2 separate regions of the Homo sapiens genome follow, and region 1 is linked to region 2. The links come from fine-mapping of genetic effects on gene expression. A gene starts in region 2. The other region holds a variant in brackets. All regions are shown on one strand. Distances are from middle to middle.

The links. PIP is the estimated chance that this variant, and not a neighbour inherited with it, causes the effect.
Region 1: its variant is fine-mapped to the expression of TPBG in monocytes (TOPMed, PIP above 0.99).

What each region holds. Positions count from the first base shown.
Region 1 is chr6:82,393,212-82,408,704 of GRCh38, reverse strand. LOC124901352 (a long non-coding RNA gene) reads right to left here and starts at 983. Exons shown (of 2, transcript XR_007059664.1): 1 at 1-983. The variant T/C (reference allele first, on the strand shown) is at 9,621.
Region 2 is chr6:82,357,076-82,372,568 of GRCh38, reverse strand. TPBG (trophoblast glycoprotein) reads right to left here and starts at 8,752. Exons shown (of 2, transcript NM_001376922.1): 1 at 8,661-8,752; 2 at 5,149-7,946. The coding sequence starts at 7,607. The coding sequence ends at 6,345. It overlaps LOC105377875 (a long non-coding RNA gene), which reads left to right and starts at 8,912. Exons shown (of 3, transcript XR_942738.4): 1 at 8,912-8,957. RefSeq lists enhancers at 6,338-7,239, 7,240-8,142, 8,294-8,805, 8,806-9,319 and a silencer at 7,192-7,271.

The sequences.
Region 1 (15,493 bases), 36 kb before region 2:
CGATATACATCTAATCCACACAGTGTCACAGATTGGTAATGGACGACTGTGTTGAATTATTAAAGTGTTTTAATTAGGTTTTCCTGCACTTCCAATAATAACTGTCCTTGGATAAGATACGCAATGAGTCTGCCTTATAATAATTCCACAGTATAGAACAATTAGAAGCACTGTTAGAACAATAAGCTAAGTTGTTTACATATTAGATACTGTTAGCATACATTATTACTGAAACAAAAATGCCTGTATAAAGATACTAGAAACACATTAAGATAAGTTGATGGGTAAACTCTAACTCTATGTTCTTGTTTTCACATTCTTTTGGGTATGAGTGCCTTCCTTTACTAACTTATTTACTTGCAAATAATTTAATTAGACAATTTTAGTTGTATTGGGTTTTGCTTTCTTCAAGTTGGGAGTGTAATGGAGGCATGTCCAGCTCCATATTCAGGCCTTTTCCTTATGGGAGATCTCTAGGATAGTAAGTAATGGCCATTTGTCACTCTCACTTATCATTGTTTGTCAGGCTTCAAGTCAGCAGGCAGAGAGGTAAGACAAGTGACAAAACCATCTTTCAAGAACTTCTGAGACTGTTCATTGCTAGTGGCAATGTGTGAAAGAGCTGCCAGTGCCTTGGGGAAAAGCAGGGAGCTTCCCATTTAGAAACAACTAGTGGATCACCCAAAGGCCATCCTCTCTGTGGCTTCCAAGAAGAACATGGACAAGAAGCAAGGAAATCTGTTTAAATTTGATGTTTGTTCCAAATGTCATTTTTGGTGATATAATTTTGAAGGAAGAAATTTCATTGTGATGGAAGTTAAAACACTTAGAAGACAGGAGAGCATAAAAGAAATGCAAAAATTTACATTACCAAGGTACCTCCAACATTCCAAATTTAAAGTACTTTTCAGTCTTGAAATAAGTGCAGTTCCTATTGACCAAACAAAGAGACAGATTTGGTTCTGGACCAAATGGTTCTGAACTCTTTTATTTTAATCATACTAAGTAAGATGCACAGTACCTGTTTTAAATATATATATATATACACACACACACACACACACACACACAATATATATACATACACATATATATAATATATATACATACACATATATATATAATATATATACATACACATATATATATATAAAATCTCCAATATTTATTTGTGACTACCATAATATTGGAACAGAAATTCTCACAAACCTTATGCGGCTTGAAAAACATTTTTAAAAATTAACTTGAATTAACAATATACTTAAAATGAGACTTCCGAAAAGATAGATCTTTCACTTTTAAATCCATTTTTATTGTCCTTACAAGGTGCCTTAATTATAATTAGAATCTTTTATGGCTATTTAATATCTTTTTCTCTTACAACATTTGCACTTGTCTTTTTTGTATAATAGTGTATAATAATATCACATTACATTAATCTTCAAAGTGATTGCAAAGAACTTCATGATGAAGATTAGCTTGTTCTATGTTGATTTCTATTTGTTGTTGATATCTGACTAAAAGCATCATACTATAACAAAGGTACCAAGTTATTCACTCTGAATAAAAGATTTGCCTTAGACATTGTTTATTGAACATCTCTCTCTTCTATCTCATCTCTGTATTGAGCCATTGGTCCTAACAGTATTGAGTTCTCGAAAAGTAATTATAATTTTTGTTGTTTTATGTTCTTCACCCATCACTGTATTTTACTACTCAATATGATAACTTCTATACTACATTGAGAATGCTGATAATATCAACCCTACTTGAAAAGCCTACATAATATGTAGTATATATATCTATATATACTACTATTTTTCCTGTTCATGCTTATTTTTAGCTAAGCTTTCTAATTACTAAAAATCTAAAGCCAGTTTATCTCTGAAATCAGATTAACACAGTTATAATTACCCACTGTTTATATATTGCAATTTTAAAAATCCATAGCCATATTCACGTCTAAAAAAATAGTGTCTTAAAAGGCACAGGGCCCATGGCTGTATCTCGCCATGTGTGACATGATCATCTCTGGTGTTCTAACATGACTTATATGGAAATTAGAGGGCAAGATATATTAGTGCAAACAAAAGTAAGAATCCCGTGAACCAGGAATCTGGGTTCTAATTTTGATTTTGTCACTTAATAGCATTATGACTCTTGGAAAATTCTGTTTTTACATCTGTAAAACTGGAATAATACTTCTTATTTCACTAAGTTTTTTGAGGCTTATATGAGTTATGACATTGTCCAATATCCTGCATGGCTTCAAATAAGTGGTCAATACATGTTAATTTCCTTTCTTCCTTTTGAGCTCCAGTTTCCTCATCTGTAAATCTGCTATAATATCTCTACAGCCAAGTAGCATACTGAAGCTGTCTTGTACCAGCTCATGGGAGCTAACTGTTAAATTTTAGGAACTTGGCAAGCCTTTTTCAAAAAAATTAAATTATATAAACCTACAATTAAGTAAATTATATTAAAAACAACGGCTACAAATATTCAAAATTCATTACTTCCTAATTATTTTACTACATATTTCTATTATTTAGGCTGTCAAGTTTATTTACATGTATCTGTGTGGTAGAAATACTACAAAAACAATGGCACATTCCGTGAAGTAACGTTGGAAGCTTGAAATGGTGGGAATATTTACACCACAAAGACTGTCAAAAGTTTTAAATCAGGGCTTTTTCCCCTAGAGAACCAGTTACTAAACATTTATGTGAGTGTTCCATATACCTAACTGATTTTGAAATGGAAAAGCACTCCATACATATAATTTTAGAAGTTCTTTCCAAGTTTAAAATTCGAATGTTCCTATAATCATGTTGAAATACTGTGCAATAAGAGAAATGGATGCTATTAGTGATCATGGAAACAACAGTAGTTAATAGCATGCTAACTGTAGCTTGGGACAGGTGGTCCTGAAGACTGGGTATAAAAAGTGATTGGCCCCTTGGATTTAAATAAATATTTAAAATGTGACCATAAGCATTTGGCAGCCATGTATTTCAAGAAGTAAGCCCTGCACATGGCCCTAAATATCATTTAGTCTCTCATTCTAATTATAATCTGTAATTCACTAGCTCTACTTTTAGAGCAGACATGACAATACTTGCATGTCTATTCTTTATGGTGTCATAATGTGCATTTATAAGGTGCCTTATTGATAAATAATTGTATCTGAGCACCCACAGCCTTAAAACCTAATTCCATAAGACATAAATTCTCAAATGAAGTAAAAGGTTTTTACCCTAAAAATATTTTTTAATTATTTAAGACCATGTTACCCACAAAGAATGGGTTGTTTACTCCAAAGTTCCAAGGGAAAAAAGAACTAAATATGGACTATAAAATACATGCTAGTGATGGAGTGTCATTATTTGCAGTATTCTTTCTTATTAGTGCTAAGAAAGCTCTTAAATCTCATAAACCTCTACTTTGAAGTAGCTGTTTACAACTAAGCCCTTTTTCATCTTGAAGTTAACATAAGGTTGAATCTGCTAAAAAACAAGTAATCTCAGGATGCCAACTTTAAAATAATAAAAAATCATAAATTGTAATGTTTAGAGGAAGTACTATAAGTCATTTCAAAAATAGAATCTGGAAAATATAAAGAATAAAAAGCAGGTTAACATTTGATTAATATTTCTAGCAATGATTTTATCTCATACTAAAATTTTTACTTATGCAAGAGAATAGTCTCTATTACAAATTACTTTATTATGAGGAAATCTATTCTAACTTGATTATATGATTTCAGAGGATATGAGAAAATAATATTTTATTGATAAATTGTACTCCTAAATTTTATATTTTGCTTTTAAATTATTAAACTATTTTTCGATCCACATTTTTTCGTGTATTAGTGCACAGTGTCCTTTTTAACATTATAATTATGAGACTGGGTATGGTCTCTATTGCTTACTGATCATGAATAAATTAATATAATTCTTCTGATTACTTTCTTGCACTCACAAAAATAAGGAATAACAAAACCCAAGAAGCAGTTCTAGAAAGGTTTTCATCAAGCAAAAGTTGATTTCCAAGGATGTTCCTATTTAAGATGATATTATACTTCTTTTCATATGAGAAAGTATGGTATGGTAAACTTATACAGAGGTTCCAAATGCCATCAAGAGAACAGTCCTTCTCGAGACTATTAACTTTTCACTAAAACACAGAACATGGAAACAAATGAACATTCACATCACTTAACACTGAGATCAGACTATGGAAATAATCTATTCAAATTGCAAGGAATCATGAGCTGGATTGAGGAAAATTTAAGTAAGCCTCAACTCACATGAAATGAAGAACATTTAGAAAATAATACAAGATTTTAAAAACCCCCTCAACTGCACCCCATTTGTCACTAGCCACAAAGAATGAGAAAAACCAGTCAGTTCTTCATGTTTCCTCCACCCCAGCCTTCACACACACACATCCTGTATCCCAATAAAGATAGGAGACAACGGACAGAACCCCCACCACTTGTCCTTGGGAGGAGAGATAATTCTATAGTACCTACATTCCTCCAGAGGTCCCCAGTGGAATTAAGTCCCAGTTGTCCATAGTTGGCAATGAGCTCAATCTACTTTGACTTTGTTTTTCTTTCTCTGTCTCACACTCTCTCACTCCAGTTTCTGGGGCTCATGCTGTAAATTAACTACCTGCCTCTAAGTCCTTATTGCAGGCTCTGAATTCAGGGAAACCCAAACTAAGACAAAGTCTCTATTACCTCCTTCTTTGGCTTCTTCATCCTTGTACTCACCCTTTGAAATTTAGCTCAGTGTCACCCCCTTGGAACAGCTTTACCTGACTGCCCTGACTCAGATACCTCTTTCATTAAAATATTATAATCATTGATTAACTAGAGTCTCCCTCACCATTAGATTGTAGTCTCCTGAGTATCAGGACATATTGGTATTGCATTTTTACACCAGTGCCTGGTACACTGTAGGCTCCAATAAATATGTGTCAAATAGGTAGCTGAATAAATGAAAAAAAAAAAGAATAAAAGGAGAGGAAAGGAAGAAAAACAAAGACAGCCTTCTGTTGCTAACATAAAATAAATTAGGAATTTGTGCTTGATCATCCCAAATGTAGCTCCCCTTAACCAAACTATATTTCCTATTTTCAGCTTACATACTCATCCCATAAAAATAACCCTGGAAAGAGCTTTCATATCTTAATTCCCAAATGAAATCTAAAGGACTTGCTAAGATGAAGGTATGTGAGATCATTTCAGCAGCAGGAGGAAAATAAAACTCTTTTTAGCTAAATCCAACACAAAATCATTCAGAAATCCCCTTGATCAATAATTTCAGGAGCAAAAAAAGAAGTCACAAGCTTACACTTGAAAAATTATTCATACCTACTACAGTAATGGTAGCAAACTCTGAAACAGTGGGACAAACCCTAGGCCAAATGCTAAATAAATCCTGTGCTGTGCCAGGTAGGAGATGCTCAGAGAGATCTGGGCCCTGCAGCCTGTCCCACAGAGCTGAAGGGGAAAGAGCTCACTAATGGGACACAGAGCTGCCATAACTCGTATTGGTGGAGTGGTGGGACTAACGGAAATCGCTAGTTAAATGACACTTTCAAAAACCCTTTCAAGGGAAAAAACTTCATCCTTTTCTTTCTGGGAACAGAGGATAAGGAGTAAATCCAGCCCTGCCTGGAATAATCAGGTGAGCTAACTGAGGTATACAGGAATGACAGCTGGACTTTCTGTCTCGCTAATGTGCAAACTCTTAAATCAGGAAAAAAGAAGGCACATGGTACAAATATAACCTTTCTAAGTCAGTATTTTATAAACTGCAAATTGTGACCCACTAATGGGAAATAAAATCAATTTATGAAACTTGACCATTAGTTTTAAAAAGTACAATGGAATGGAATAGAGTTGGAAAATATCAGAATGTTCACATTTTTGTGGGCACATGTATATGAATGGTGGGTCACAATATAAAATGTTTTCTTAACTCTAGGTTGTGGTTAAAAGTGTTTGAAAGTCCCTGCTCTTGGCTGGTGCTTCTCTTAAATGTGGTCCAGGGTTCCCCATATCAAAATGATAGTTCAGATAAAAATGTAGCTTCTTGGCTGGGTATGGTGGCTCACACCTGTAATCCCAGCACTTTGGGAGGCCGAGGGCACCTCAGGAGTCAGTTGTTGGCCAGCCTGGCCAACATGGTGAAACCCCATCTCTGCTAAAAATACAAAAAAATTAGCCTGGTGTGGTGGTGCACACCTGTAATCCCAGCTACCTGGGAGGCTGAGGCAGGAGAATTGCTTGAACCCAGGAGATGGAGGTTGCAATGAGCCGAGATCACGCCACTGCACTCCAGCCTGGGCCACAGAGTGAGATTCCGACTCAAAAAATAAAAATAAAAATAAAATAAAAAATAAAAATGTGGCTTTGTGGCACCACCCCTAGAGATTCTGATTGAATAGGTCGGGGGGCGGGGCTCAGGAATATGCATTTCAGAACTGCAGATGATCCTGCTGCAAACTAAATTTGAGACACAGATGATAGCACCTCCAGGGTTGCAATGAATAAATGTAAAGATTTATTTGTCATTTCACTTTCTGGCATGCAGAAGGATTCTCCATGATTAGCATTTCAGGGAAGATCTTAGTTCTGGATAAAAAGTAGTGTAGCATAGTAGTTAAGAGGGTTTCTGTGAAGTGAGATAGATCCAAGTTGGAATCTCAGTTTGCCATTTATTAGATGTGACATCTCAGGAAATCTCAATTACTTTGTATAAGCGGAATCGGTAACTGTAGCTACCACATAGAATTAAAAGAATTACATGAGATAAAGCAGCTGGTGCATAGTAAGGCAGGAAATATTAGCTATTATTATATTTAAGAATCCACAACATTTTGAGAAAAACGCTATTCAACTTAATTTGACAGACATTAATTGAGTGTGCAAAGAACTATGTTACGTGCTTATGTAAATGCAAAGATAAAAAACAGCCCCTCATTTCACGGAATTTACAATGCTATAGTCATTTTTTTTTTTTTTTTTTTTTTTTTTTTTTTTTTTTTTTTGGAGACGGAGTCTATCTCTGTCACCCAGGCTGGAGTGCAGTAGTGCAATCTCAGCTCACTGCAACCTCCACCTCCCAGGTTCAAGCAATCCTCCTGCCTCAGCCTCCTGGGTAGCTGGGATTACAGGCACACACCCAGCTAATTTTTGTATTTTTAGTAGATATGGGGTTTCACCATGTTGTTCAAGCTGGTCTCAAACTCCTGACCTTGTGATCTGCCTGCCTCGTCCTCCCAAAGTGCTGGGATTACAGGAGTGAGCCAATGCGCCTGGCTGGTGATAGCTTTTAATAGCAGAAAATCTTACAGATTACTCAATCTAGCTCTCATTTAACAGAAGAGGAAACTAACACTTGAGAGTCTAACTAAGCAAGTTGCCCAGAGTCGTACAGATAGTTAAGTGGAGGAGTCAGACATAGAACCTGGGAACCCGAACCCAGGCCACCTGGGATCCTTCCACCAGAGCGGATCTCAGTTCCTGGATAAGAGAAAGCCCAATCTTGACAGTGGTGTGCTGGTAAATATTAACAACCAGCTCTGTGTTGGGAATATGTGTGTATGTGTGTGTATATATATTATATATAGAATATACGATATTATATATGTTACATATGTATGTAAGTTTATTCTAAACTTTACTAATATAAAGGACATATAGCACACAGTTTACTAATGATAATAAAATATACAATATACTTTATTATAAATTCCAACTGATTCTCACAGAATGCTTTAGTTGATTTTTGCTCAATTCCTATATCCATAGCCAACCTATGATTGCAATTAACTATAATTTGACAAACAGAGTTGTATCTCAATCCACTAACTCTTTTTTAAAAATTGTGGTAAAATAGGCATAACAGGCTGGGTGCGGTGGCTCATGCCTGTAATCCCAACATTTTGGGAGGCTGACATGGGTGGATCACGAGGTCAGGAGTTCAAGACCAGCCTGGCCAACATGGTGAAACCCCCATCTCTACTAAAAATACAAAAATTAGCTGGGCGCAGTGGCAGGCACCTGTAATCCCAGTTGCTCAGAAGGCTGAGGCAGGAGAATCGTTTGAACCCAGGCGGCAGAGGTTGCAGTGAGCCGAGATCACACCACTGCACTCCAGCCTGGGTGACAGAGTGACACTCTTGACTCAAAAAAAAAAAAAAAAGGCATAATATAAAATCTGCCATCTTAACAACTCTTAAATGTATAGTTCAGTAGTAGTATTAAGTGTATTCACACTGCTGTGCACCCAATCTCTAGAATTTTTCATCTTACAAAACTAAACTCTATACCCATTAAATGACAATTTACTCTCTTCTCCCCTCAGCCCCTGGCAATCATCACTTTACTTTCTGTTTCTATGAATCTGACTACTCTAGATACTTCATATAAGTGAAAAAGAGTATTTGTCTTTTTGCGACATTTTTAGCATAATGTCCTCAAGATCATCCAGGTTGTAGCACATCACAAGACTTCCTTCCTTTTTAAGGCTGGATAATATTCCATGGTATATACATATACCGCATTTGTTTATCCATTCATCTGTCAAAAGATACTTGGTTTGCTTCTACCTCTTGGCTATCATGAATAATGCTGGTATGAACATGGGTACACAAATATCTCTCCAAGACTCTGTTTTCAATTCTTTGGATATATACCCAAAAGAGGGATTGCTGGATCATACAGTAGTTGTATTTTTAATTTTCTGAGGAATCACCATACTGTTTCCATAGTAGCTACACCATTTCCCATTCCCACCAGCAGGGCACAAGGGTTCCAACTTTTCCATGTCCTCACATCCTTGGCAACACCTATTTTCTGCCTGTTTTTTTTTTTTGTTTTTTTTTTTTTTGAGATAGGGTCTCACTCTGTCACCCAGGCTGGAGTGCAGTGGCACAGTCATGGCTCACTGCAGCCTCCACCTCCTGGAATCAAGCAATCCTCCTCTCTCACCCCCCAACTTCCCCCCTCCCACGAATAGCTGGGACTACAGGCACGCACCACCAGGCCTGGCTAATTTTTTTATTTTTGTCATTAAGTCTGACATGTGATCTACTATTAAGCTATCTTCCACCATCATACAGATTATATTCATTAAATTAAAACCTTTTTTTGGTTCAGCACACTTAAGTTCAAACATAATAGTCAATACTGTGATTACTGAATCAGATAACAGTTTTCCAATATTGAAAAAAGTATTTCCTCAGTTTTGTGTGCTAATCACAATGTAATAGCTACTAAAAAAACATGCTTTTAAGTTTAATTTGCATTTTTAACATTTACTCATCACTTTTTAAAGTCTAGATGAAGGGTATAGAAACATTTTCTATAATGGGCCAAACAGTGAATATTTTAGGCTTTGTGGGTCTAACATCTCTGTTAAAACTACTCTGCCATGGTAGCATAAAACTAGTCACAAACAGTACATAAGTAAATGGACATGGCTGTGTTCCAGGGAAACTTTATTTATAACAACACATAGCAAGCATGCCCTCTTTTACTGAATCCTGATTTAGATAATCAACAAAACAATAAATCAAGCTGTGCTGCTTGCCAATTTCCCTCA[T/C]GTAAATACTCCCACCATTATCAAATTTAAGTTTCAACACGAAGTTACCGAAAGTAGAGTTAGAAAGAAATGCATAGTTGCATGCCATTTTTAGCATTCCTACCATTAATACAAATAGACATAAATAACCTCAATGGCACAGATAATAGTAAAAATGTAGTTAAATAATTAGGGAGTGATAAATTTTGAGTATTTATTACTTTGTAAAAAACAAAATTTTAGGTCAGGCAGTCTAGCTCACACCTGTAATCCCAGTATAATAATTGGCTCTCCCAAGCCCATGTGGGTGAGTTCCAGCACCCCAGTGGTTCCATACTTTAGTCTCCTGCCAATCCCCTCAGTGGTCTGAGAACCAATCCAACCCTTGCCCCTTGCACCCTTTCACAAACTTTAAGAAAATATTCTCCTCTGAAAGGCAGAAACCTGCTTTCTGGATATGTATCTTACTCTCCCATAACTTAATTTCTATAAAAACATCTTCTCTTCCAGTTTTTATTTAACTGTTATTCTAGTCTGGCCCTAAGGTAATTACATTTCTGACCAAACCTGCACCATCTTAGAATTTACAGAAGTAAACAATTGTTCCTGTGTTTGTATTGTGAGTCACATTTGGCCAAAAAGAATTTGCATTCCTTTAGAAGCTTCTAAAATTACAGCACTTCCTAGTTCAGGAACCAGTAACTTTGGGGTAGAAAGTAAAATGGGTATAAGATCACATAACTGAGCAGAATCAGGGGATATATATTTTAAGTTAGCCCTAATATACACAGTTATTCTTGGACAACTGATTTCCCTTATTTATATAAATCTCCATTTTTCTCTCCTCTACAAACTAAGGAGGGTAATAATACTTGGTATTCTTAAAGTTTGTGAGGGCTAATATTGCTCAAGTGATTTAAGAACATTGGCTAATGGGGTGTTGGAAATGTAGGTCATCATTTATCATCTAGACATGAATGTGAGTCATTAAAGATTGCAATTCCATGAACCTGACAAAATCACTTTAAGCTTTGAAAAATGTACTTAGATGGTTAAGGCAAATTGAAACTACCAGGTGAAATTAGCGTTTCAATTTTTATCTGCATTTTCTTTAACCATATTCTCCCTTTCTCCCTATGCCATAAGTAACTGAGAGGTGATAGCTTATTCAGGCATGTTTTCTTTTTTTTGTTTCCTTTGACTCTGGAATAGATACTCTATGGTACCAATGCCACCATTTCCAGGTCTTTCCTTTCTGTGCTCTTCCTTTCTAACTCAATCAATGAATCCATATTTATCAGGACATTGTATTAGATCATCCTTTTTCTGTTTCCAGATTATTTCCAGGTTCTGGCTCTTACCTTGTTATGAGTGCATACAAGCAACACACAGCCTTCTAACATTGATATGTCTCTTTAATCATAAAACATGGGACAGGACACAGAATATGGGCACAGGAGTTCACTCTGGCAAAGCATAGCTCTTGCATGATAAATCTCATTCTATGTATTCTGCAAAGTCCAGTTTGGTTTATGCTTTAGTCTCATGAGAATCCCAGCCTACCCATGAATCCTTCCGGAGATGACCTATCTCTCTGTTATGAAGACACAAAGTGAAATCTGTTTAATGCATGAAATGTAATTATTCTTTACTCTCACTGAATGTTAATGTATATTTACAAAGCTGCACCAAGTTGGGAAATATATTTTGCATTTTTAGTAGAATACCATATTTATACTGCAAAGTTTTTGTTTTATGAATATTTTATTGAAGAATAGCTGGGAATGGGTTATCCAATTCAAGGTTTTATTTGCCTTTTGTATATTTATGTGGGTTTGAAAGAGGAAACACTTGCTTTTATATCTGCTAAGATTAGTCACAGGTAATTGTGGTTAGGTTTGCTGAAATTCCTCATCCTAATGATGCAAACAAAAATCACAAAGCACAGAGCTTTTGGTTTCAGAGGTGACTCACAAAGTCTAGCAATCCATCTTGGAAGTCTTAGCAGGCCTATTTTTGGGCTGTTCTCCACACATGGCAAGGCTGAAGAATCCCAGGTGTTCTTGCTGAGAGCACAGTGAGAGCATGAGGATTGCCCTGAGAAGCAAGAAAATGCTCATTAAAGCAGGTTTCTGGTGGGAGATGACTCTGACTGGCAGGCCTGCATTCCTCCCTGTGGTGACCCCTTTCCTTGTTAGAGAGGGGGTCTGATGTCCAAATGTATCTGGGTTTAATGAGTAGCTGTTCACTGGGGACCCAGAGATGGCAAAGTGCTTGCTTGGTGAACCAAGAACAGCATATCGTTTATTTTGTGGATACGACACTGTTTAAATAATGTAAAAGTTTTTCTTTTGTGAGACGCTTTCCATGCCTTAGTAATTCTGAATGGCATATGTGGATATAGGAAACCTGAGGCTATGGTATAAATGGACTAACCAGGTTGGCTGAATTAATGATTCTGACAAAATCCCTAAATTCTTAAAAATAATTTGATAAGATCAACAGACATTTATGTCCCTACTGTAAATGAAGATGGAATAAAATTAGGAATTCTTCCCATAGGTCTGCAGATGTAGAATGGTTAATCAGGTGAAAAGATATTTAAATAACAGACCAGGGAATTAGGCCACCATATTGATTTTTTTAAATTGTTTTAATCTGTCAGATACTTACTAACTGCAAGCATATTTTGTCTTGCAGGGCATATTTCAACAAAATGGCAAATAATATGTATTTTGGTGAAACCAAAATTGAGTAATTGTATATAACAAAATTGTGAATAGCAAAGTAGCAATTTATATATGGCTAAGAATAGAATTTTATACAAAATATAGAGTGCAATGTCTGTGTGAGAAAATGCATGACAACAACGACAGTGTTAAAGTCCTCGAGAAACACCACATGTGTATCATAAGCTAAGCTAAGCATTTACTTGGAATTAAGTGCCAAGAAAAAATATTATTTCCCTGTGGCATGATATTTTGAAAGACCTCTCCATCACTTAAAAGTAAGGTGTTTTTTTTTTTCTGTCAGTATTCTAGAAATAAATTTGAAAGCACTTAAGGTATATGGAAAATTTTCTACTATTATTAGTATAAAAAACAACTGCGAAGGAAAACTCAGTGCTTTCCAAATCAACGTGTTTAATGCCCTGTTTATAGAATCAACTGTATCAACCACTTCATGATATAATTTTTCTCCCATTCAAATGAAGTTCTAGATCTGTGGAATCTTAACTTAAATACTTAACTCCTATTAGGCTATGTCTTGTGCAACTCTGGCCAATTTCATTAATTTTTCATTGCTTTGGTTTCCCAACTGAAAAATAAGGATCATAATGTAGTTCCACCTCTTCATCACATTCTATAGGGTTGGGCTAAACTGAGCACAAATAAAATATTTTTATGTAATAAAGGTATTACATAAAAATATTAATACTCTTGTAAATTTTTAATTATTACAATTTTAAAAACAACATAATTTTCCAAATAGATGAGGTGTAAGTATATAATTTAAGTCATCATTGAGCTTATCAGGTGGGCAGGGGACGAAACTGATACACAGATATTTACTGACCACATTCTAATGCCAAGCACTTTATATGCACTATTTCACTCAACTGTCATTACAGTCTGAGGTAAATACTACTATAAGATCTACTTTATAAATGGGAAAATTGCGGGGGAGGAGCCAAGATGGCCGAATAGGAACAGCTCCGGTCTACAGCTCCCAGCGTGAGCGACGCAGAAGATGGGTGATTTCTGCATTTCCATCTGAGGTACCAGGTTCATCTCACTAGGGAGTGCCAGACAGTGGGCGCAGGTCAGTGGGTGCGCGCACCGTGCGCGAGCCGAAGCAGGGTGAGGCATTGCCTCACTTGGGAAGTGCAAGGCATCAGGGAGTTCCCTTTCCGAGTCAAAGAAAGGGGTGACGGACGCACCTGGAAAATCGGGTCACTCCCACCCGAATATTGCGCTTTTCCGACCGGCTTAAAAAACGGCGCACCACGAGATTATATCCCACACCTGGCTCGGAGTCTCGCTGATTGCTAGCACAGCAGTCTGAGATCAAACTGCAAGGTGGCAGCAAGGCTGGGGGAGGGGCGCCCGCCATTGCCCAGGCTTGCTTAGGTAAACATAGCAGCCGGGAAGCTCGAACTGGGTGGAGCCCACCACAGCTCAAGGAGGCCTGCCTGCCTCTGTAGGCTCCACCTCTGGGGGCAGGGCACAGACAACAAAAAGACAGCAGTAACCTCTGCAGACTTAAATGTCCCTGTCTGACAGCTTTGAAGAGAGCAGTGGTTCTCCCAGCATGCAGCTCGAGATCTGAGAATGGGCAGACTGCCTCCTCAAGTGGGTCCCTGACCCCTGATCCCCGAGCAGCCTAACTGGGAGGCACCCCCCAGCAGGGGCACAATGACACCTCACACGGCAGGGTATTCCAACAGACCTGCAGCTGAGGGTCCTGTCTGTTAGAAGGAAAACTAACAAACAGAAAGGACATCCACACCAAAAACCCATCTGTACATCACCATCATCAAAGACCAAAAGTAGATAAAACCACAAAGATGGGGAAAAAACAGAACAGAAAAACTGGAAACTCTAAAACGCAGAGCGCCTCTCCTCCTCCAAAGGAACGCAGTTCCTCACCAGCAACGGAAAAAAGCTGGATGGAGAATGACTTTGACGAGCTGAGAGAAGAAGGCTTCAGACGATCAAATTACTCTGAGCTACGGGAGGACATTCAAACCAAAGGCAAAGAAGTTGAAAACTTTGAAAAAAATTTAGAAGAATGTATAACTAGAATAACCAATACAGAGAAGTGCTTAAAGGAGCTGATGGAGCTGAAAACCAAGGCTCGAGAACTACGTGAAGAATGCAGAAGCCTCAGGAGCCGATGCGATCAACTGGAAGAAAGGATATCAGCGATGGAAGATGAAATGAATGAAATGAAGCGAGAAGGGAAGTTTAGAGAAAAAAGAATAAAAAGAAATGAGCAAAGCCTCCAAGAAATATGGGACTATGTGAAAAGACCAAATCTACGTCTGATTGGTGTACCTGAAAGTGATGGGGAGAATGGAACCAAGTTGGAAAACACTCTGCAGGATATTATCCAGGAGAACTTCCCCAATCTAGCAAGGCAGGCCAACATTCAGATTCAGGAAATACAGAGAACGCCACAAAGATACTCCTTGAGAAGAGCAACTCCAAGACACATAATTGTCATATTCACCAAAGTTGAAATGAAGGAAAAAATGTTAAGGGCAGCCAGAGAGAAAGGTTGGGTTACCCTCAAAGGGAAGCCCATCAGACTAACAGCGGATCTCTCGGCAGAAACCCTACAAGCCAAAAGAGAGTGGGGGCCAATATTCAACATTCTTAAAGAAAAGAATTTTCAACCCACAATTTCATATCCAGCCAAACTAAGCTTCATAAGCGAAGGAGAAATAAAATACTTTACAGACAAGCAAATGCTGAGAGATTTTGTCACCAGCAAGCCTGCCCTAAAAGAGCTCCTGAAGGAAGCGCTAAACATGGAAAGGAACAACCGGTACCAGCTGCTGCAAAATCATGCCAAAATGTAAAGACCATCAAGACTAGGAAGAAACTGCATCAACTAATGAGCAAAATAACCAGCTAACATCATAATGACAGGAGCAAATTCAGACATAACAGTATTAACTTTAAATGTAAATGGACTAAATGCTCCAATTAAAAGACACAGACTGGCAAACTGGATAAAGAGTCAAGACCCATCAGTGTGCTGTATTCAGGAAAACCATCTCACGTGCAGAGACACACATAGGGTCAAAATAAAAGGATGGAGGAAGATCTACCAAGCAAATGGAAAACAAAAAAAGGCAGGGGTTGCAATCCTAGTCTCTGATAAAACAG
Region 2 (15,493 bases):
GAACAAAAGAGATTATACCCTTGGATCTAGTAATTCTCCCTCAAGGATCTACCTTAAGGGAAAAATGCAAAAGGTAGAAATACAGGGGGGTACAAAAATGCTTATTGCAACATAAGTTAAAACTGCAAGCAACATCCTGTATGTATAAAACATATGATTGTCTGCAGTACATTAGAACCAGATGTTAAAATAGTTTTCATAGTGGTGGAGAATGCTCAAAAAAGTGTAACTGAAAAGGCAGGATACATGTGAAATAAAGAGAAGGCCATTTATCCCAATATTAGCACTTCTTTTTTCCTTAGTCATAGTGTTACTCATGGTACTTTTCCCTTCCTGTACTTCAAAATATTCTACAAAACATGAGTTAATTTAAAAATGTTTTTTAAGTGTTTTATAGCCAGTGTTGAAATGGTCTATAAGAATCACCACAGAATGTGTACCATTGAAAATTAAAGTCCTCCTTGAATACAATGTAATACTGTATTGTAAAATTGAGAGAAACTGACATAGAGTCACTTGTATTTGTAAACTGACCCACCTAATGTTCCAGTCAGTCCAATTCCCCTGGGTAAGATCACCTTGAAATGTTGTGTGTCATGGCTCTCTTGGGAGGAAGAAAGTAAAAAGTAATAGAAACAGAACTGATGGCTGGGCACGGTGGCTCATACCTGTAATCCCAGCAGTTTGGGAGGCCAAGGTGGGCGAATCACTTGAGGTCAGGAGTTCAAGACCAGCCTGGCCAACATGGTGAAACCCCATCTCTACTAAAAATACAAAAATCAGCTGGGCATGGTGGTGCACGCCTGTAATCACAGGTACTCGGGAGGCTGAGGCAGGATAATTACTTGAACCCAGGAGGCAGAGGTTGCAGTGAGCTGAGATCATGCCACCACACTCCAGCCTGGGCAACAGAGCAAGACTGTGTCTTAAAAAAAAAAAAAAAAAAAAAAAGAACTGTAAGGGGAAGGGGAAAATAAATGTATAAACTTCCGTTTTTTTTTTTTTTAAGCCTATCTCGATAACATCCCCGGTTCTTTAAAACATATTTTTAATATTTACTTTTCACAAAAAGTATTATAGAGGGTCATTATCTTAAGCTTCTGCTTCCTTAGACCAAATGTTTCCTTACATTAACCAAGTTAAATTGTGAACCACAAGTAAGTCCTATCATAAAATGTCAGCTAAATATAAACTGTATTTGTTTTTATAAACATTTACGTGTAAGTGTATGATATAGTAATCATGTTGCTTAATCTTAACCCACACTTTTTTAAAATAATAAAGTAAACCTAATTAATTTCCCATGCAATACCCTGAAAGGTACTCATGCTAGCTTCCCAAAATTCACATAAATTATAAGCCTTTTGCAATCTGCAGCATAAATACTACATATGATGTGAGAAAATTGAGATGTAGTGTGTGTCCTGCATATGTAAAGACAGTAAACTGGCACTTCAGCAGCCAAGCTGGCAGTGTTCGGCTGGTCAGTCCCCTGGTTTTCCAGGGTGATAATGGATTTGCATTGATTTAACTAACTTCCCTGTTTGGTCCAGGCCCTTAGAGGATGGCAGCATGCACCTGGAGTGGGCGTGAGCTAGGAGAACACAGCAGAGAATGCAAAGCTGACTGTCTCACCTGGTGACTGATTGACTTAATGGTCACGAACTTGGTCTCATTTGTTTAGTTTTCTCACCAGCTGAGCTTAACTCACATTTAAGGTTGAATTATACAAACCAGCACTGCATTCCAGAGTTTTTATTTTTCTTTTCCAAAGAAATATCACCATTAAATTTCCAAAATACTTCCTATTATATAATAGACTCATAAGATTGTTATGAAAAAATCATTTCAAAAACATTAAATGTTTTCGGGGGTTAAAACATGGTAATTTTTAACAAAGTAAAATCTAGAGCAAACTGAAGCATTCACTCAAAGCAACAACAATAAAACAAACAAATTCACCAAAGCAATTGCATGTTTTTATCAGACATGGTGATTTCAAAGGCCTCAAGGTAGGCAATTAGTAATGCCATCATCTGGTAAAAAGAGCACCAGAAGGGGAATCTAGAACCCTAGGATTTTGTCCTGGTTGTCACTGTATAACTGACACTGTATAACATAATAACTGTCACTGTATAACATAATAAGTCACAGTTACCAGTTACTTCATTTGTGGAATGGAAAGCTGAGCTTGACACTTCTAAGAGCGCTTCCAATTTTGAACGACTAAGAATTTGTATTCTTGTCAAAATTATATAAATCATATATTAAACATTTTTTTAATTCTAGATTTTTTTAACCCATGACAAAGAGCTGCTAAAATGTTCTAAGATAAAACAAAATAAAATGAGCCTGCCTTTTTGAAACAAAAGTCTCTAAGAGTAACAATGGGAAAATAACTGTACAAAACATCCTCAAGATGTTTTTCGTCATCTAAAAGGTGACAGGATCACCTGGACAATGTTGAATGTATTTTCTTAAACTAATTATTTCTAGTGCAGCACTGCAGTATTGGTGAAAGATCTTAAAAATACAATATCAAGGTAATTTTCATATATTATCTAGAAATATAAATTCCTCCCTTTCCTCTCCTTTACTGTTAAAAATGCTTGCACAAGTGTAAAAGTGAAACCAGAATTTCATCTAATAAATGTCTGTCTTCACTTTACGGTGCTGCTCTGAAAGGTGGATGACCGGATTTGGGAGCAGGAGGAAGCACGTGCAGAATTGTTTTTAACCTTGCAAATCTCGTGATGTCTCCTTTAGTGTAGTCTTGGGAGAAAAACTAAAATGATATGAAAGAATCACAATCTAGAATTGCAAAGCCTCTAAGGTCCTCAACAAGGTAAGCCCTGTTTTAGAACATCAGGTAAAAGGAAAAGAGTAAAACAGAATTCCTAAGCAAACAATCTCAGTTCATCTGGACCTTCTTTTTTACAGCCACTTTAATTAAAAAGACAAAAGACAAAGGTAAGTTATTTCTAATTAAATACTGAGATGAGCATAATCCACACTTACTGCCAATCAAGGTATTTCTAAAGGATTTATTATTTGTGATTTGCTCATTTATTTCAACCAGCCTTCCCCCCCAAGCTCCTACTCTTTTTCCTTTAAAAAATCCTATTCATTTAAAAACTCCTATTCAATGTGCTTCAAAGTCTCCTTATTTTGTTAGAAAAATCTGTCAGCTCCTGTACAAATTTGCCTTGTAGGTTACCATTGAATCACACCCATAGCAGCCAAACTGCTATTACAAAAACGAATGCTGCAAACTGAATGGTTACAATCAAAGGGGGCAGTTATAATTCAGGGCCAAATAGCTGTATTATCCTAAAATTTTTGCTACTTTAAATAGAAATTTATGGGATAGTTGAATAGCTTTCTAAATTAAGGGATATATCAAGTCCTTGAATTTCTAAGTATTTTTTCTAACTTTCTTCAAATGAAACTTGTAAAGGATAAATGAAGGGTGTTTTATGTTGAAAATTTTACGTTCAGTAATAAAGAGTATTACCAACTAAAATAAAATTTTAAAAATGGATACTTGCAGGTTTCTAGAGTCAACAATGCATTAATAGTAAGAACAGTATTTAAAACAAACAGACTTGTCTTATTTTTAAATAAAGTGATACTTTTATTTTTCCCATATTCCCTTATACTTATTGAATTTATATAGCCTCTATCTTCCAAGGAACTTAGAATGTTTTATAAGCTTATAGACTTAAGAATATTAGGGCTGCAAAACATTAATTAGTTGTCAAATAATAACAATTTTTTATCTTAAGAATAAGGTGTTCTTTTAATTGACTTTTTTATTTCCATATTTTGGAGAACAGGAAGGAGTGATGTGATGGAAAACAAAGCAGTAGCAATTGGAAAGTCCAAACAAGAGAATAAGTAGGGGGATGAAAAAGAAGCAATAAATTATAACTTCAAAGAAGCCATCTACCTAACAGGGAAAACTTGGCTTCACTTTATCAGATTCATCATTGCTTCAAAGAGTTGATGAGAAAAGCTAGACTAATGAATCTACTGCTTCCCTGGTTCTTAGATAAAGCTCCACTTTAAACTGTTAGATTATCATGTGATGAAGAAACAATTCTTCTCAATAGAGGCTCTATCAATATTATAATTTGTTTCCTACAATATCAGAAGACTTACTAAGTCCATCAACAGTTTACTAAGATAGTGGTCACTATTTTTGACAGATTAGTATCTCATTGTTCTTACCAAATAATGGCAACCAGACAGTTTAGGAATTTCTGATGAACACTTAAACTGTTTGATGGAATTTTAAGTGCCAAATATTTAGCTTTTTCTGAGGTAATTATAGGATCTGAAATATAACCCTTAAATAATAAATACTATATTTCACAAAACAAGCCTGATGGAATTTAAGGAATTACAGCTTTGTATTCTGACTATATATTCTAACCTATAAAAAGGAAGATTTACTTATTTTTAGCCCTACTTTGAAAATTTCTGAATTTAATTCAAAGAAGGAATCAGCAAAGATTTCTAGAACCTAAAATACTATCTGATCCTATTTTATTTATAAAAATATGAAAATGTAGATTTTATTTCAAACATAAAGCACTGAAGGACATAACCAGTTCAAAGGAAAAGCAAGCCCTAAGACTTACTGATGCAAGTTTACCTAATACTTTCAGTTAAGCAATAATGGCTACATTTAAATCACTTGATAAAAGAGCCTGAAGACTGATTAATGGAATTTACTTTTCAGATTAAATGACAGATAATAAACTGAAAAAATAATAAAAGCCTTGTATATTATGGATGTATCAATTAATGATTGCCTGTATTTACACCTAAATGTGATTTATTCTTCACAAAGGTGTATATACTTACATTATGAACAGCTTAGCTAAAATCAAAATATCCTCAAATTCTTAAACACTGAACTGAAGATAAGAACCTATAAATACTTGAGACACGTGTTTACAGATGTAGACATTTATCTGTGGTTATTTCCTCAAGTTCATATTCAACCATGTCAAGTCAACTTTTTAAACATATTAGCTGGGTCTCTGATAAACTAAAGAACATTTATGTTCCACTTTAAATGTTTTTTTGAAAATATCCTCAAGAAAATCTAAGTTTCAATTTACATTAAGACATTGAGAAATATTTTTTAAATTATATTTTATATCTTTTATTTCAGAATATTGTCTTTAAGACACTTTATCTTTATATTTATTTGCATTACATTTGTTTCAAATTCTGCTCTAAAAATCCACAGAACAATTTCAAACAGAGTTTTATTAAGTAAATACTATTTTTCTAGACCAACAATAACTTCATTAGCCTTGAAAAAGCCCCAAACTGGGAACTGTTTATTGTGCAGAACGCTTAGCTTTTACCAACTTCATTATGTTCTTACAAAACTGTTTCATAAATAGCATTAACTTTGGGACCATACAGTCACATGAATACTCAAACTCTCCATTTAAATACTAAAAGGATCCACCATTTCAAAACGATCTCCCAAGTCTATTTATATTAGACATTGCTACAGTTTGATTCTCAGCTATGTTAAGTAATAATTATCATCGGAACCAAGACCATTGAATACTCCTGCCCTTCATCCTTTTTTCAAAGCAAACTTGCACACACTGTAATTCTTTTAAGAATCTTTATTTTTTTTTTTTTTAACAATTCAGTCGGTTGGATCTCGATGCAGTTTATTAAAAAAAAATCAGTACATTTTCATATAAACTGCAATCAAAAAAGTAATTTACTTTGTCAAAGAAGTTATGAAGTTGCAAGTTATTTTTTGTAATATGCAGAACAGTAAAATGTAAGCATGCTCTTGGATGCAGGTGCTCCTGTGCACCATGGAGTTATTTTGAAGAGCCTGCTAACGTCTGCAGGCAGTTTATAGGATGCAATTATTTTCTCCACAACTTAGGTACATGAGAATAAAACTGATATTTATGAATAAAGTATTTTTCTCGAAAAAGTTGAGGCAGCTTTTGTTGAATGCTATCTGTGTGGGTACACTTGCTACACCTTGAACTGTACTGAGAGAGAGACAGACAGCAAGAAGCCCATGTTCATGCTGAAACCTGAAAAATCCCTCCATACGTGTTGAGGAGTTCCAAGAAAAAGAAGAGGGTAAAACACTATACACAACTGTTCATCGTCTTACATTAACAGAACACACCGAGAAACTTTACATAACAAGGAAGCAAATCCCCTTCACTGCTTTTAGTCAAAGTCCGTTGTATCTATAGTGGAGGATGAAAGTGGAGCAAGCCTAGTAGGGATAAAGCTTAAGTCTACATCTCATGCAGAGTTGTCCTTGGTCTGTCCTCTAATATTTCTCAGACATCCGAGTTAGAACTGAGGTTCGTTAATCTGGGGTCCGCATTGATTTCATATCTGTAATGATACCCTTCCATGTGATCCCTGCAGGCATCTCTGATGTTATGCATCCACTTTTTTATCCCCTTGCGGTTCAAATACAAAACCAGGAGGAAAATAGCGCCTATCAGGGCTAAAACAATACCCAGGAAGACATAAGAGGTTTGCAGGGATGGGGGAAGAATCGGGTCACAGTCCAGGTCAGCACTGTTGAGTTCCAAGAGGACCCGATTCCTCATTTTTTCCGGATATGCACAGGTGAGCCGGTCTTTGCCCTGCACTACCTCTGTTTCCTTGAGCCAGGTCACCATGTCTGCCATGTGGCAGTCGCAGACCCAGGGATTGTTGTCCAGGAAAACCCTAATGTGGGGTAGACCTTGCAACTCAGCCAGGGTGCCATTGTGAAGGACCTTGAGGGCATTGTCCTCCAGGTGGAGGCTTTCTAGATGTGTCAGGTTGCGGAAGGACACGTAGGTCAGGCTCACCAGCGAATTATTACTTAAGTCCAGGTGCCTGAGGCTGGGCAGTTGGGCCAGCACATCCCGCGGCAGGTAAAGGAAGTGGTTGCTGGCCAGCTCCAAGCGGCGGAGCCCCTGCAGTGCACGGCCCGCCAGCAGGGCCGCCACCACCATGCCCTCGAAGCTCCGGTTCTGCCGCTCATCTTCAGGGGGCACGATGTGGTTCAGGATCAGTTCCACAAGGGGACTGGGGGCCGAGACGCTGGCATTGCTGCCCGAGAAAGCGAAGGGACTGAGGTCGGCCAGTGGGTTGTGGCTGAGGTCGAGCTGGCGCAGGCTGGGCAGATGCTCGAAGGCGCCCGCGCGCACCTCGTCCAGGCGGCTGCCGCTGAGGTTGAGCGCGGCCAGCTCCGCCAGCGGCGGCCGGCGGGCGAAGGCGCCGGCAGGGAGCACGGCCAGCTGGTTGCCGGTAAGGAAGAGGTTGCGCACGTAGGCGGGCAGGTCCGTGGGCACCTCGGTCAGATTGCGGTTAACGCACTTGACTGTGCGCGCTGCCTCGGAGCACTCGCACAGCGCGGGGCACTGGTCCGGCAGCGGGGGCTGGGCGGACACGGCGGAAGCCAGGAACGGCGCCGAGGAGGAGAAGGAGGATGCCGAGGAGGTGGGAGAAGACGAGGAGACCCAGCCCAGGAGTACCAGCGCTAGTCGCGCCAGCCGCAGACGCCCGTCCCCGGCGGCGGGGCCCCGGGAGCACCCCCCAGGCATCGCGGCTCGCGTTTCCCCGGAGCTGGGCTGGGACGGCGCCCGCTCCGAAGGCTCGGGAGGCTGGGCCCGGAGGGCGCGAGCCGGCGGAAGCGTCTGGAAAAAAAAAACTTTCCTCTCGTGGAACCGAGGGAGTGGCGCCGCAGCCGGAACTTGGCTAACCCCCTCGCCACCGGGCGCTTCCCTCAGGGGCCGATTCCCCCGCCCCTTCCCTCCAGAAAGTACGCACGGCGGGTCGGGACGCTCCGCTCCGCGCTCCTGCTCCCGCTCCTCTTCCTGCCGCCGCCCTGGTGCCACCTCTTCGCCTCTTGTTGGCGCCCCTCGCTGGATCCTCTGAGGGACCTGGGACAAGCAGGAGAGAGGCGTGAACAGCGGTGGCTGCCGCGGCTTCCGGAGTGCAAAAACCGGCCTTTTCGAGTCTAGTCGTCTCCAGTCTGTCCCAGAGACCTCCTTCCAAAAGCCCGCCCCGGCCTCGCCTCCCCAACCCCTCCGGTCACTTTTACTCCGGAGGGGGACGCGCATCCGACACCCAGACCGCAAAGTCTTCCTTCTTCCCTGGCCCACACTAAATAAACCCGACCGGCCTCCCGCCCTCCGCCTTTCCCGAGGAGACTCGTCTCCCGCGTCTAACTTACCGCTTAATCCCCAATTCCTTCCCTACCAAACTTCTCCCTCTCCCGTTCCTTCCTGCACCGCCTCGGCGGAAGGTCGGCCTCCGGGTGTCTCCGCCCCCGCCCAGACCTCTCCACCAGGTCCCGGTTAGGATGCGAGGGAAGTTTCAGGTTACAGGACTTTTTGATCTCTTTTTGTACCTTCTCGCATTAGCAGGAAGTGGAGCTACAACTGTCGCCCCCCAGCCCGCGCCCCGCCAGCCCCTCGGATCTCAAAGGGGTTCAAGTCATCTCCAAAGAGGAGGGGAGAGTCTGGGAACAAAGCAGCAGTGGGACTCGGGGTACAGTGGCAACCCGAACCAACCCTACTCTCCACCCGAGGATGGGGAGGGGCCCCAACGACGCCTCCCGGGTCTCTCCCAGGCCGCGGGCTCCCACTGCTCACCTCCGCGTCCGCCGCCTCCAGAACCAACTCTGAGTTCCACCAGAGTAGCGACGACTTCCCGGCTCCGCGTTGCGGGCGCCGACTCTCTTCGCACCCCAGCCCCTGGCCCAACCTCCCAACCTCCGCAGCTGGGAAAAACCAACCCGGGGGGCGGGGGAGGGCCAGGACTGTCGGGGAGATTCCCGACGCGCGGCCAACCTCGGCAGCCGTAGGTAGGGGGATTTAAGAAGAGAGACTAGGGGAGCTGGGCTGCGCGCCTCCTCCTGGTGGAAATTAACGAGGAATGTGCCGGAAAAGGTGAGGGAATCCCTTTCTCTCCCCCCTCCCCGACATCCTTGGGTGGTTCCTCATTTTGCATACTGTATTTACCTTGGACTGGAGCAAAACCGCTGGTGAATCTCGTGGAATTCACCCTGATTCAGGCACCTTTGGCAGTGACGAGATAGATTTAGGCATGACAGAGCAGCGCGAAGCAGCAGCAGAAAGAAATGAGCTGAAAATCTACTGCGGCAGCAGCAAAGGCACGGCAGGTTGTATGGAAGCTTCAGAAGCTCTCCCCATCAAAGTGGTACTTGAGGCCGCAAACTTCAGATTTAGGTGTAATTAATGCCTTCCCGCCTGTCCCCCCCGCCCCCTCACTTCTTGGGTAGTGATGGAACTTGTGAAGAGAGCGCGCCAACTTTAAGAGAGAGAGAGAGAGAAAGAAAAAAAAAAGATTAGTGGAGAGGAGATTCATTCCTGATTCATTAGCTTTTCTCTTACCAAAATTAAAAGCAGATGGAAGAGAAAGGCAGCCAAAGGCATCCCAGAAACAAAAGGCAAATAGCAAAGACTTGAGTCTCCCGGAAAGCGGACCCGCCCCCCTCCCCAGATGTAGCGCGGTGTGTCAAGTCACTTCTGTGGAGAAAGCTCCAAGGATGAGGAGTGGGGATTGCAGGAGCTGACCTGGGAGAGAAGTTTGGTTTCAAAGTCGATTGTCCCAGGGGGCATCTGGCAGATGGTGATGGAGAGGATGGGGTTGGGGAGAGGGACAAATTGAATGGTTGGTTACCGGAAGGATCTGTTATTATACCAGACAGGTTTTGGGTTCTGAAAGCCCTATCGTTGCTCTCTGTAACTCCACATCCCCTTTGTCCCAATTAAATAATTTCCCCGAAGGGATAAGAAGGTTCTTCCAGGCTTCTTCATTTTAGAGAGAAAATGGCAATTAGGGAAAACATGGTTCGGAAATTTAAGACCTGGTCGTATTAAAAAAGATCAAATAAGGATCCTGAGGCTTGTGCCTGGGACATGTGCCTTTAGTGTGAAGAAAGACCCCAACTCTCCAACGGACGCCTGATTACTTTTATAGAAAGAGATAGTCTGCAAAGCCGACAGCAAAAATGGCTCAGACAAAAGCTGAAAACACTGGAAACTGCAGAGATTTGTGCACAAAAGCTGGTTTCATTAATTTGCATCTTCAGCACGTTTATCTACATCTCTTTTCTTATTTTTAAAAGTGTTTTGCAACATGAATGTAAAACACTTTGAAAAAGAATCTCTAAAGCTGTAGTCATGTTCTGTATCCGGATTGTGGTGGTGGTTACATAAACCTATACAACGTGTTATAACTCATAGAACTTTGTAAACCAAAAGAGTCAATTTTACTGTATGATAAGTTTAAAAATAAAATTAATTACTCATTGGAAAAAACCTGTAATAATGCTCTGGCATGGTATTAACTCTGGTCCTGATCTGAAGACCAACTGCTTTGTTAGGAGAGTGAGATACACTTTAGAATTTAGAAACATAATATATATACTCATCTGATTTTCAAGACAACTCAGAGGCAAGATAAATATTGTTAGTATTATTGCTTGTTGCTATTATTGTTGTTGTTCTGTTGTACAAATGAAAAAACTGGGGCTTTAAGTTAGCTTGACTGAGTGTCTTCCACTTGCCAAGCACTGTGCTGATCACAGATATTATCTCATTGACTCTTCACTTCGGTACTCAAGTTAGGTCCTCTCACTCCAGTTTTACAGACAAGAAAATTGACGCAAAAATAAATTACATAACTTGTTCAAATGAGTGATGGAGGTGGGAACCAGGCCCAGATTTGCCTGCCTCCCATATAGTACATCCCACATTCTGCCTCTAGGCAAGATTAAGGAGTTTGTGCAAAGTTCTACTCTGTTCCACTTAGGCAGAACGTAAACCTCACCTCTTGTTCCCTTTTTACTTCTTCTGCCTCCACCTTCCTGCAGCTGGCAATTGCTTATGGCTGCTGAATAGGGACCCAGAAATTTAGGGTCATTTCTAGCTCTGACACTTGCCTGCTGTGTGTCTTCTATAATAGGACCACTAATGAAATTTGAAGATATTTCCATGAAAATTGAGATAAATATGTCACATACTTAGCAAAATCATCTGTTTTGATAGTTCTCTCCTAAATTACCCCCCTCATGTTATTTATTGTAATCCACTATATCTCTGTAACTATGTTAGTAATAGGAATACAAGGATAAATAATTTAAAGTCTCTTTAAGGTAGAGTTGCCAGATTTAACAAATCTGGCAAAACAATGAATACCTTTTAATGAACAAAACAATGAATACCTTTTAAGTGTGTCCCATGCAATATTTGGGAAATGCACCCAAAATTTTGTTGCTTATAGTTGAAATTCAACTTTAATTGAGTATCCTGTATTTGATCTGGCAATACAGCAGTTGATAATCTGGTAAACGAAAGACATAGACACGGAAGCAAAAGCTCTCAATGCAGAATTGAGTACGGTTTGGTGTGTGTATCTTTCCAGTCAATGCCCTCTCTCTTTATAAATATTTCAATTGTTTCTGCTATTTTTTATGTGAATGGGATCATAGTATATGAATTATTCGCATTTTTTCTTTTTTAAAAACAACCATCTATTTTTCTGTGTGCATACATATAGGTATGCTTCTCCTTTTTTAAAGACTGAAATATTTCAAACTGTAGATTGTTGTACCACAATTTATTTAACAGCCTTATTGAAAGACATTTAGATCAGTAAATACTTTTTAAAGAAGTTTCCTCCAAGTGAGAAAAGCTTACTAGGATCAGTTCTATTTTGATTGTCTTAAGCATTTAATTATCCCAAATTATCATACTTACTTTACTCCTGACAGCTTGAAAATTTTTTGTGCATGATGCTATTTACATACTCTAAGGCAGGGCAGAGGATTGCAGAGCACATTTTTCCCAATTTATTCTTCTATTCCAAAGTGAAATAAAGGAAGGATCTGAATGTCCCGACAGATAAGAACCAATTTAGTGTATTTCAAGAGGTCACTTTGTAGCCTGCAGGAAACGTTTCTACACTATCATTTATTTACAAGATTGTTTCTACAGGGACCATTTTTCTTCTAATGACCCAAAGGAAAGTCAGTAGTAAATTATTGAAATATTGCTTCTAAATCCTGATTAGGCAAGGAATAAATAGGTATAAAAAGAATGATGAGTGGTTATGACCACCCTTATGGTAACTAGCAGAGAGAAGCCGCGTGGTCCAGCATGGACAAACACCAAGATTATTTAAGACTAGTTCATTTTGATCTCTGTCTCAAATTAGCAAAGGAATTGAATACACGTGAAAACTGTCAGATCTGAAAAGTAACTAAAACAAAGTCAAGTGTTGGTGAACAACAAGCACATATGTCAAAAAACCATGAACCAACACTTAAAACTAAAACCATCAACTTGAGGGTCAATTTGACAAAAAAAAAAAAAAAAAACCCACCAGAAATTGTACATGTATATGTGTATATTCATGAAGAAATAATTTTTTAAAATTGTCAGTGATTAAAAAGAAAACTTCAAGTCACTTTAAGTACTTGAAGTGTGTAAACTTCTGAGATGTGTAAACTAAAGTAAAATGTAAATTAAGGAATGGGTCAAAAGGAATGTATTTGTCTCATCAGTCAGTACAATAAGTGCTGCGGCTAGTAAAAGAAAAATATAGCCCTCTATATCTGTGGGTTCTATATCCCTGGATTCAACCAAACCACAGATAGAAAATAATCAAAAGAAAATAAATGGGTGGTTACATCTGAACCAAACATGTACAGACTTTTTAAAAAATTATCATTATTTCCTAAGCAATACAGCAGGGCGCGGTGGCTCATGCCTGTAATCCCAGCACTGTGGGAGGCCGAGGTGGGCAAATCACTTGAGATCAGGAGTTTGAGACCAGCCTAGCCAACATGGTGAAACCCTGTCTCTACTAAAAATACAAAAGTTAGCCAAGTGTGGTGGTGCACACCTGTAATCCCAGCTACTGGGGAGGCTGAGGCAAGAGAATCACTTGAACCTGGGAGGCAGAGATTGCAGTGAGCTGAGATCATGCCACTACACTCCAGACTGGATGACAGAGCAAGACTCCACCTCAAAAACAAAACAAACCTTTTGGTGAATTAACACTCCTTTCTGAGGGGCAGGGTTGATGGTCCAGAATGTGGTGGTCCAGCCTTCCTCCACCATTAATAATGGTTATTAAGAGTTTCTATTTGTATAGTGCTTTAACCATTTACATATTTTCATATGCATGATTTCATTTTCCTTCTCAACTCTCCATTACCTCTATTTTACACATAATAACACTGAGACTTAGAGAACCACTTGGTCCAGATTACCTAGTAAGTGGCCAGCCTGTGGTTTAAACTCTGTTCTCCTACTTTATTTCCAATATGGCAGGCTATCCCTGGACCCATTCACTATTTCAGATTCAGTAGTTGTTTCTTTGGAAGACACTGAGGTTTTCAGGGCAGAATAAACATATGTCAGAATTCCACTGAACTTTCACTTGAGAAATTAAGGAGAAAAACCTCTTCCCCTAATGAAATAAAGTTATCTAATGATATGTAATTTCTCTTACAGCCAAAACCAATGTTATTGCAGTTCAAACAAGCCCTTATATAAAAATGAGATAAATAAACATAAAATGTTAATAAAAAAAACCACAAAAAAATACAGCATAAAAACTATTTACATAACATTTACATTGTATTAGGTATTATGAGCAACCTAGAGATGAATTAAAGTATATAGGAGGATGTCCATAGGTTATATGCAAATACTATGCCATTTAACTTAAGGAACTTGAGCATCCCTGGATTTTGGTATCCGCAAGGATCCTGGAAGCAACTCCCTGAGGATAACAAGGGATGATTGTATATAGTAATATCCAAACTCTCCAAATAGTCACCATTACAGCAGGATCACTCAACATTAATTCAATAAATGCTTTTTTAAGACCCCGCTATATACTGTCCACCTATTTGATGCACTTGAAATACAAGGGTAGATAGGATAAAAATCCCTGCCCTCAGATAACTCACAGTCTAATGGGAAAGCAAATAGTTACAAAACATACGGTAAGTGCAAACATGGGATGGAGTGGGGAGACTGTCAGAAGGTTTTACTAGGGTGGAAATGCCTGAGTTGCATTTTGAAGCACAATCGGCCTGTATACTCAGCTTCTGCCCCGTGTATTCAATCAGCTGGGGATTGAAAATATACAGAAAAAAGAAACAGGAAAAAATAATGCTACAACAGTAAAAAATAATACAAATGAAAAATACAGTAAAACAACTATTTGCATAGCATTTACATTATATTGGGTATGATAATCTAGAGATGATTTAAAGTCTGTGGGAGGATGCATGTAGGTTATAAAAAAATACTATGTCATTTTATATCAGAAACTTTAGCATCTGTGGGGTTTGGTATCCACAGGGCTCTTGAAACCAATCCCCATGCATACTGAAGGAAGACTATGTTAGTAAGAACTTGACAGACAAAAGATCGGCAAGTTGGTGAAAAACCTGAGAATTTATTCAGTTCTAGAGACTACACAAAGCAGAGCACAGCACACATTGATACATTGGAGGGAGTGGTACAAGGTGAGATTTGAAATTTAGTGGGATCAGATTACTGACCTCCAGTCTAAAAGGTTTGTATTATTCCAGCCTGGCATGGTGGCTCACACCTGTAATCCCAGTACTTTGGAAGGCCGAGGTAGGTGGATCAGCTGAGGTCAGGAGTTCGAGACCAGCGTGGCCAACATGGTGAAACCCCATCTCTACTAAAAATACAAAAATTAGCCAGGCCTGGTGGCAGGCATCTGTAATCCCAGCTACTTGGGAGGCTGAGGCAGGAGAATCACTTGAACCCAGAAGGTGGAGGTTGCAGTGAGCTGAGATCATGCCATTGCACTCCAGCCTTGGCAACAGGAGTGAAACTCCATCTCAAAAAAATAAATAAATAAAAATAAAAGGTTTGTATTATCCTGAGTGATGGGGGGCCAATGGAAGTTTTCAGCAGAGGGATGACATGATCACAAGTGCATTTTAGAAAGATCACATTTGCTATCTGTTTAAAAGGTAAATTATAGACAAAGAAGACAAAACAGAGAGAAAAGTTGGGTGGTTCAAGTGAGGGATGACAAAGAGCCAAACTAAAGTAGAAGGAAAAGATTGGCAAGGCAACAATAGATTATATAGACCACTGGTTATTATATAGACCATAAGATTACATGGAACAGTGGTTCCCAACAGAGTGGCACTGCACCCAGTGCCACTAAAATATTTTTTGAAAAGAAAATATTGGCTTTTAGAAAGTTTGAAAACAACCTATAAAAATTTTTAAGATAATCTACAAATCTTGGTGATTTATTCACTTTGAAGGTAACAATACATACATTTATAATTCTAAATATAAGATTACAGATAACTTCTATATTTTAAATAATGACCAAGAGAAATTTTAATTTATCCCCAGTGTGACTAGATAAAAACCTGAAGTTCTCAGCCTAGAAA